2 linked regions of the Homo sapiens genome follow. Changing the gene in region 1 together with any one later gene gives a genetic interaction. Each region holds a gene or a part of one and is shown in the gene's direction. Other genes may lie near its edges.

What was found. Genes that interact genetically often act in the same process or in processes that back each other up.
Region 2: changes in SLC23A1 (region 1) and SREBF2 together harm fitness less than expected from each alone (positive genetic interaction), as found in Homo sapiens cells (one large-scale study listed by BioGRID).

Annotation. Positions count from the first base shown.
Region 1 is NC_000005.10:139,372,578-139,377,855, reverse strand, and holds part of SLC23A1 (solute carrier family 23 member 1), read left to right. Parts: intron 1-358; coding exon 359-454; intron 455-5,278.
Region 2 is NC_000022.11:41,874,529-41,878,204, forward strand, and holds part of SREBF2 (sterol regulatory element-binding protein 2), read left to right. Parts: intron 1-808; coding exon 809-923; intron 924-1,014; coding exon 1,015-1,196; intron 1,197-2,700; coding exon 2,701-2,893; intron 2,894-3,413; coding exon 3,414-3,595; intron 3,596-3,676.

The DNA of each region.
Region 1 (5,278 bases):
ACCAGCAGCTGAGAGCTTGGGTCACAGCTGTCCTTTACTAAGACACTTCCTGTGGACAGATATTGACCTTTACATGTGCTTATTTAATTTTCAAAACAGCTCCATTTATCTACATTTATCATTTCTCCATTATCATTTCAACTTTACAGATGAGGAAGATGAGGCTCAGTGATTTGTCCCAGGTGAACAACTAGCAACTGGCAGAATTGGGACTTGAACCCAGAGATAGGAAAGACAGAGATAGGTTTGAGACAGGGCTTTGTACTGTTCCTTTGCCATAGCTGCACAAGAGGAAGTCCCTCAACTCTGCTCTCCAGATTGGGCCATGACACCCATTGGCCCTTGGCCTATTCCACAGGCATTCTTGAAGTGGATCAGATTCTGATTGTGCTGCTGACCACGGAGATGTTTGTGGGCGGGTGCCTTGCTTTCATACTTGACAACACAGTGCCAGGTATGGTTCGGTCCTGGGAGGGGAATGAAGAACTAGGCTGGACTCATGCACTCCAACAGATGGCCTCTGAGCTGGAGCTGTGTGGTTAGGTCCCATGCAATGCAGGCCCTGCAGGGAGCATCAGGAATAGATGGGCTGGTGGAGTGCTCACTGGCTGGAGGGAGAGAATGAGGCACAGACATGCCTCAGAGGTCTTGAAGAGGATGGGGCCGGAAGAGTCACTGCTGGGTCCTGTGAATCCTTTCCTCTCCACTTTTTCCATTTCTTTCCTTTTTTTTTTTCCGAGATGGAGTCTCGCCCTGTCACCCAGGCTGGAGTGCAGTGGTGCGATCTCAGCTCACTGCAACCTCCACTTCCCGGAGGGTTCAAGTGATTCTCCTGTCTCCTGAGTAGCTGGGACTACAGGTGGCTGCCACCACGCCCAGCTAATTTTCATATTTTTGGTAGAGATGGGGTTTCACCATATTGGGCAGGCTGGTCTTGAACTCCTGACCTCAAGTGATACGCTCGCCTCAACCTCCCAAAGTGCTGGATTACAGGCATGAGCCACTGCACCTGGCCTCCTCTCCATTTCTTAATAGCCACTGGGCTGAGGGATGTCTTTGCTTTCTTCAGAGTAGGACAGAGATAAATGCAGCATCAGTTTGTTGGCAAAATCCATCCACTCCAAATATGTCAGCAGCCTGCCACAATGGCGACTAGAAGAGCCACTAACATTTCCCTTTGGTACCAGAGCTTTTTGCAAAGATCGTGGAGGATACTTTGTGGGGCCCGCATAAAGATGCCAGTAAATATATAAAATAAATGTCACCAGGTGCTCTGATAACAAACAGTTAACATTTAGCAAACATATACTATGGGTAAGGCAGAGCTAAGTGTCTTACTTCATCCTCAAAAACCACAAAGTCATAAAGTCACAAAATTAAAACATCACGGCCGAGCATGGTGGCTCATGCCTGTAATCCCATCACTTTGGGAGGCTAAGGCGGGTGGATCACGAGGTCAGGAGTTTGAGACAAGCCTGGCCAACATGGTGAAACCCCATCTCTACTAAAAATGCAAAAATTAGCTGGGTGTGGTGGTGTGTGCCTGTAATCCCAGCTTCTCGGGAGGCTGAGGCAGGAGAATTGCTTGAACCTGGGAGGCGAAGGTTGCGGTGGGCCGAGATCGTGCCATTGCACTCCAGCCTGGGTGACAGGGTGAGACTCCATCTCAAAAAAAAAATTAAAACATCGCAAATCTGGGATGTATATTTTAATTGAGACAGGGTCTCAGACTATCACCCAGACTGGAGTGTAGTGGCACAATCATAGCTCACTACAGCCTCAAACTCCTGGGCTTATGTGACCCTCCTGCCTCAGCCTCCCAAATAATTGGGACTACCGGTGCACAGGTGCATGCCACCATGCCCGGCTAATTTTTGAATTTTTTGTAGAGACGGGGTCTTACTTTATTGCCAAGGTTGGTCTTGAACTCCTGGGCTCAAGTGATCCTCCCATCTCAGCCTCTCAAAGTACTGGGATTATAGGTGTGAGCCACCACACCTGTCCTCAATTTTTTTTTTTTGAGATGGAGTCTTGCTCTTGTCACCCAGGCTGGAGCACAATGGCGTGATCTCGGCTCACTGCCACCTCCGCCTCCTGAGCTCAACCGATTCTCTTGCCTCAGCCTCCCAAGTAGCTGGGATTACAGGTGTGCACCACCACACCCAGCTAATTTTTGTATTTTTAGTAGAGACAGGGTTTCACTATGTTGGCCAGGGTAGTCTCAAACTCCTGACCTCAGGTGATCCGCCCACCTTGGCCTCCCAAAGTGCTAGGATTACAGGCGTGAGCCACCACACCTAGCCTCTATTTTTAAATTAAGATGGGGGTCTATGTTGCCCAGGCTGGAGTGCAGTGGTTATTCACAGGTGTGATCATAGCATACTACAGCCTCAAACTCCTGGACTCAAGCAATCCTTCTGTCTCGGCCTCCTGAAGAGCTGAGAGTACAGGTGCATGCTATATACCATCTGGCTAAATCTGGGATTTTTAACAACATCCATCTGACGCAGTCAATGGCCTGTGTCCCATCCACTGCACCATACTGCCTCTGCTGGAGGGTTTCAGGGGACCTGGGCTGCAGGACTGGGGAAGGCTCCATGGAGATGGGAGTTAATGACTGCATCAGTATAGGGACATAAGGGATGGTAGTAGCAAGATGATGGGCCTCCATTTTGTCACTTACCAGCCTGATCACAGCCACAGGTCCTGTCTGCCTCCCTCTCTCTCAAGATCCAAGTGTTCATGTTCACATAACATAGGTGTCAGAGGCTGTCTCTGAACAGCTGGTGGGTTGGGGCTGGGGAGGACAGAGGAGGGCCAGGGTTCCCCGTAGGATTTTAGGCAGAATCAAAGGAAGGTGCTCTTGGTAGCAGCTGTCCCTTCGATGGATGGGTGGCTATTTGAACATGGTACCCCTGCCCATTTAGAGGATGCTAGACTGGGGGCTGGAACAGACCATCCTATGGGCCTGAGACAGTCAAGTGGCAGCCTCAATGCCTAGGGAATATGAGGAGATGGAGAGCATCTGGGTAGGCATCTGTACATGAAGAGGCTTCTTTGTGACTTGGGTGGCTAGTTTAAGCTATCCAGTCATCCTTAACAACAGCTGCAGAACTGCCTGAGTCCCTTATACCCCACATTTCAACCCACCTGAGCATCACAACTGTCCCTGCCAGGAATCATCCTGTGTGTCATGCCACATAAGCTCAGCAGTCTTCAGTATCCACTGAGGAACCTAAAGCTCAGGGGGGTTGTCACTTGCCTAAGGTCACACAACCTGGATTCAAACTAAGGTCTAGCTGGCTCAAAACCCTGTCCTTAACCATGGAATAGCAAAAGCCTTTTCCAGCCCTTAACTTCCTGCTGGGGATGGGCCATTTTGCATTTGTTTTTTTTGTTTGTTTGTTTGTTTTGTTTTTGAGACGGAGTCTCGCTCTGTCGCCCAGGCTGGAGTGCAGTGGCGCAATCTTGGCTGTGCCTCCCAGGTTCACACCATTCTCCTGCCTCAGCCTCCCGAGTAGCTGGGACTACCGGTGCCCGCCACCACGCCTGGCTAATTTTTTGTATTTTTAGTAGACACAGGGTGCTCTTTGTCTTTACCTATCCAGAGCCCAACCTTAGAGGGCAGTCCGTTTAGTTCAGCACATGCTGCTAGAGCTTACCAGCTTGGCCCTGAATCAGACACTGAGGAGGATATGCCAAAAAGTGTAAGTCAGTAACAATTTGTTTAGAGGAGCTCCTGGCACAAGATAGGTGGTAAAACTAGATTTAAGCAAGCAATGAAGTCAAGGAAGCCGGGCTGGAGTTATTGGGAGGGTTTACTGATGAGGGAGAGTAGGTGAGGCCTAGGAAAAAGGAGGGGGCTTGGAGAAGTACAGAAGGCACTGAAGGTTGGGATGTAGTGGGCAGGCTGACTGGTCTGCTAGAGGGAGCTCTGGGCTGGCTGCCATGTGTGTCTTGGCAGTGGTGCGAGGTAATCGGACACCAGAAACATAGTCCTACGCCACACCTATGGCTCATCCCACTCTACTGTGCCCACTGTGTGTGCCCTTTGTACAGCCAAGCCCAATCAAGGTTTCTCTTCCAGACTGTGTGTGCCCTTTGTAGAGCCAAGCCCAAACAGTGTCTCTTCCAGGTAGTCTTCCCTAGGGACTCCACCTTCCCTCAGTGCCCTCTCCTGTGAGATTTTGGAACATAACTTGGTTTGTGCTACTCATGGGTTTGTTCTCAGCCTGGGCTGCCAGCAAGTGGAAATTCCCACTCCTGCTAGATTTATAGTATTTCAGTCTTTGTCGATCCCAGCCCTCTTGTGAAAACCTGAGATCTCATGTGACCCTGCCCCACCTGAGGGAGAATTCCTAGTTGTAAAAATTACTAGCCCGGCTCAGTGGCTCACACCTATAATCCCAGAACTTTGCAAGGCCAAGGCGGGCTGATCACTTGAGGTCAGGAGTTCGACACCAGTGCCTGGCCAACATGGTGAAACCTCATCTCTATTAAAATTACAGTAATTAGCCGGGCGTGGTGGGTCACACCTGTAATCCCAGCTACTCGGGAGGCTGAGGCAGGAGAATCGCTTGCATCTGGGAGGCAGAGGTTGCAGTGAACCGAGATCAACCCACTGTACTCCATCCTGGGCAACAGAGCAAGACTCTGTCTCAAAAACAACAACAACAACAAAAAAAACACAACACAAAAAAACAAATTATTTGGTGTATCCCTACCTCCAAAGATTTTATTTAGCTTGACTTTCTGAAGTTTGTATTATAAAAATGAGTTTTTCACATATGGAATCATAATATGAAATATTAACACTGATTATAGTGTTTCAAAATATGCCTCCCTTACCCCCAGAACGCAATCTGGACTTGATTTGGTCCCCATGGGCCTAACACACATTACCACATACTCACAGATTTAGGTTCACAATTACTTAACTTTTTGTCCCTTTCTTCATCTTAAAATTTTGTATAGGCCGGGCACAGTGGCTCACGCTTATAATCCCAGCACTTTGGGAGGCCAAGCCAGGCAGATCACAAGGTCAGGAGTTCAAGACCAGCCTGACCAACATAGTGACACCCCGTCTCTACTAAAAATACAAAAATTAGCTGGGCATGGTGGTGCATGCCTGTAATCCCAGCTACTAAGGAGACTGAGGCAGGATAATCGCTTAAACCCGGGAGGAGGAGGTGGCAGTGAGCCGAGATCGTGCCAGTGCACTCCAGCCTGGGCAACAGAGCGAGACTGTCTCAAAAAAATAAATAAATAAAATAAAATA
Region 2 (3,676 bases), on another chromosome or scaffold:
TTAAACCCTATTTTGAAAGAAAATTTCATTTTCCTTGCCTACAAATCTGAAAGCTGTACATCCTAAGTAAAAATCTATGCCTTAAGATAACTGTCCAGGCTAGGCACTGTGGCTTACGCCTGTAATCCCAGCACTTTGGGAGGCTGAGGCGGGTGGATCACGAGGCCAGGAGTTCAAGACCAGCCTGGCCAACATGGTGAAACCCCGTCTCTACTAAAAATACAAAAAATTAGCCGGGCGTGCTGGCAGGTGCCTGTAATCCCAGCTACTTGGAAGGCTGAGGCAGGAGAATTGTTTGAACCTGGGAGGCAGAGGTTGCAGTGATCTGAGATCGCGCCATTGCACTCCATCCTGGGCAACAAGAGTGAAACTCTGTCTTGGAAAAAAGAAAAAAAAAAAGATAACTGTCCAACAATGCTGTGGTTGTTTTTTTCATTTGTTTTCGTTAAAGTTTGTTATGGTGCTAGGATTATTATAAGAAGTGGGAACAATAGCTAATATTTATTGAGTGTCAACTATTTGCCAGGCTCAGGGCTAAGCCCTTTACACTCATTATCTCATTTAGCCCTGCTGCAAGCCTGTGATTCACGCGCTTTCATTATCTCTGTGCTAATGAGGAGGAAAGTGAGGTTCTGAGGTATGGAATAACTTCTCCCGAGTGGCACAGCTAATCATTGGGAGGACCAGCATCTGAACTTGGTTTCTCCTCTCACAGAGCCATGCTGTCATCCCAAGTGCTAGGGCTCTGCTCTTTTCACACTGTAGCCTGCACTGGTCTCACTGTGTTTTCACTCATCTTCCTACCCAGATGCACAAGTCTGGCGTTCTGAGGAAGGCCATTGATTACATCAAATACTTGCAGCAGGTCAATCATAAACTGCGCCAGGAGAACATGGTGCTGAAGCTGGCAAATCAAAAGAACAGTAAGTGTGCTGAGAAAAGGCTTGTCAGCCCTGGCCCAGGTGGGGCTTTGTAAAAGCAGATCATTTTCACCAGGTGGGGTTTTCTTTGCAGAGCTTCTAAAGGGCATCGACCTAGGCAGTCTGGTGGACAATGAGGTGGACCTGAAGATCGAGGACTTTAATCAGAATGTCCTTCTGATGTCCCCCCCAGCCTCTGACTCAGGGTCCCAGGCTGGCTTCTCTCCCTACTCCATTGACTCTGAGCCAGGAAGCCCTCTATTGGATGATGCAAAGGTACAGACTTTTGAAATCTCCTGATCCCTGGAATCTTTCCCATTTCCCCTAAGAAGATAGCTGGGAGGTCACAGTTATGAGGCCAGGCCGCATGTTAAGAGGGCCTAGCCTGGAGAAAAACAGGAATTCTGTGAAATTAGCCAGGTCCTGGAGAATAAAGAAAGAAAAAACTGACTCCGGGGGGAAACAGTCCCTCAGGTTTAACTGGTCCTTGCCGATAGGCCCCGTCAGAGAGGAATGAGTGCCAGATCCAGAACGAGAATGCAGAGTAGCTGTTGTGGGGGCGTTGGGAGCTGCTGGAGGCACCTCATTGCTTCACTCTGCCTTTAATGGGCCTGGCAAGACCACTTTGGGAGGCTGATCAGTTGGTTTAGGATGAGGCTGCCTCTGGGTCCTCTTTTCAGAAATGATTACAATTTGCAGTCTAACAGATAACATTTTACCTATGGGCCTTTAATCGTCAAAGCCCCTGGCAATGGTAGTTTAATGGAATTACTTAAGAGACGCTCTGAGCCTAATGATCTTCCTGGGAACCTGTAGAGACCACTGGGTTTTGTACTGTATTTTGACTTCGGCAGTTTCTGACTCTGAAAGCACAAAGTTCCCTCCTAGTGTTTGTTTTTGACTAAGCTGTTTATTGTATCATATACTTAATTTTACTAAGGAAGCTCCATTTTTGAAATATTCTTATAAATGTGGTTCTGTTTGGCAACAACAGGCTGTTTGACATATAAATTGAATTAGCTGGGCTTCTGAGTCATCAGAAGAAAATCTTAAATGGTTTTAAAATATTGAAAAGAAATGACATGCTATATACACATTGGGGCGCAGGGGAGATCTGGCTTCAGCCCTCCTGCTGTAAAATGGAGAGTGGGGTGGGTGTAGACAATGATACAGTTTTAGAACAGGTAAAATCCTTTAGATAGATTCACACTAAATACGGTCTTTGATCAACTTCATTGAGGTGTAATTTAAATGCAATAAAATATACCTACTTTAAAAGTACAGTACCAAGAGTTTTAACATAATGTACAGTGCTATGTAACTGTCACTGTAATCAAGATATAGAACATTTCCATCACCCCAAAAAGCTCTTTTGTACACCTTTGCAGGTAGTTTCCCACACCCCTCTCCAGCCTCAGACAATGACTGATTCATTGGTTTCCTGTTACTTTAGATTCATTTTGCCTGTTCTGGAATTATACAGAAACAGAATCATACAGTGTGTTCTCTTTTGTGGTAGATTTCTATTTTAAAAGAAAATCTCTTCTACCTTTGTTCTTTGGAACATGTACTTTTCTCAGTTAGCAAGCAGGTGAATGTGCCAATGTTTGAGCAGCAGTTAGTGAATTATAGGCTTCTCAGTTCCCATCTGGCCTTAGTCCTGAGTTAATCGACTTGAATTTAAACCTCATAACCATTTCTCAATATATATATATGTATTTATAAAGTGCTGTAAAAACCTATGCAGTATTTATTCCAACCTCGAGGCCTTGTTTTGAAGGTCAAAGATGAGCCAGACTCTCCTCCTGTGGCGCTGGGCATGGTAGACCGCTCACGGATTCTTCTGTGTGTCCTCACCTTCCTGTGCCTCTCCTTTAACCCCCTGACTTCCCTGCTGCAGTGGGGAGGGGCCCACGACTCTGACCAGCACCCACACTCAGGCTCTGGCCGCAGTGTCCTGTCATTCGAGTCAGGTAGGTGGAGGCCCCTTGCCCCACCTGGGCATGGCTGGACCACTATGGCAGGAGAAGGACCCTGTGTACAAACTTCTTGGCTTGGCTACCAGGTCCCAAAGGGCTTTTATAGTGGGCCCCCACCTGCTTGCTTCTGATAGGGACTGGCATAAGTTCCATTTTAGAAGTAACAAGGCAAGCCCAAGTTCAGTCAGAATGAGCAAAACAAATCAGGGACCCACACTACTCTAAATACCCTGGGGTGGAGGGGTGGTACCTATTTGAAGGAGGATATCGTGTTTTTTATCTGAGGTTGCAAAACCAATGCCTCAACCCTTTCAAAACAAAGATTTTTATGGCACTCAGCTCCATAATGAGAAGGGCTACAGTCATTAGCCCTGTTTAGATTATAGAATTATTTGCCCTTTCTTCTGAAAATGAGGTAGAAGACTCTTTCCTGTGATAGTGCTGGGGTCTGTCAGGTGCCTGGCTGCTCCGCAAGGCCTTTCCTAGCAGACTCTGCTGAGACGCTCCTTCTTAGGTTCTGGGGGCTGGTTTGACTGGATGATGCCTACTCTTCTCTTATGGCTGGTAAATGGTGTGATTGTCCTGAGCGTCTTTGTGAAGCTGCTGGTTCATGGGGAGCCAGTGATCCGGCCACACTCGCGCTCCTCGGTCACCTTCTGGAGGCACCGGAAACAGGCAGATCTGGATCTCGCCAGAGTGAGTTCTGTGTCCGCCCTTCCCCATCCTCCCCCAGACTTGACAAATAATTCAGCAACTCGTGTCAAAGAAAGTCCTATG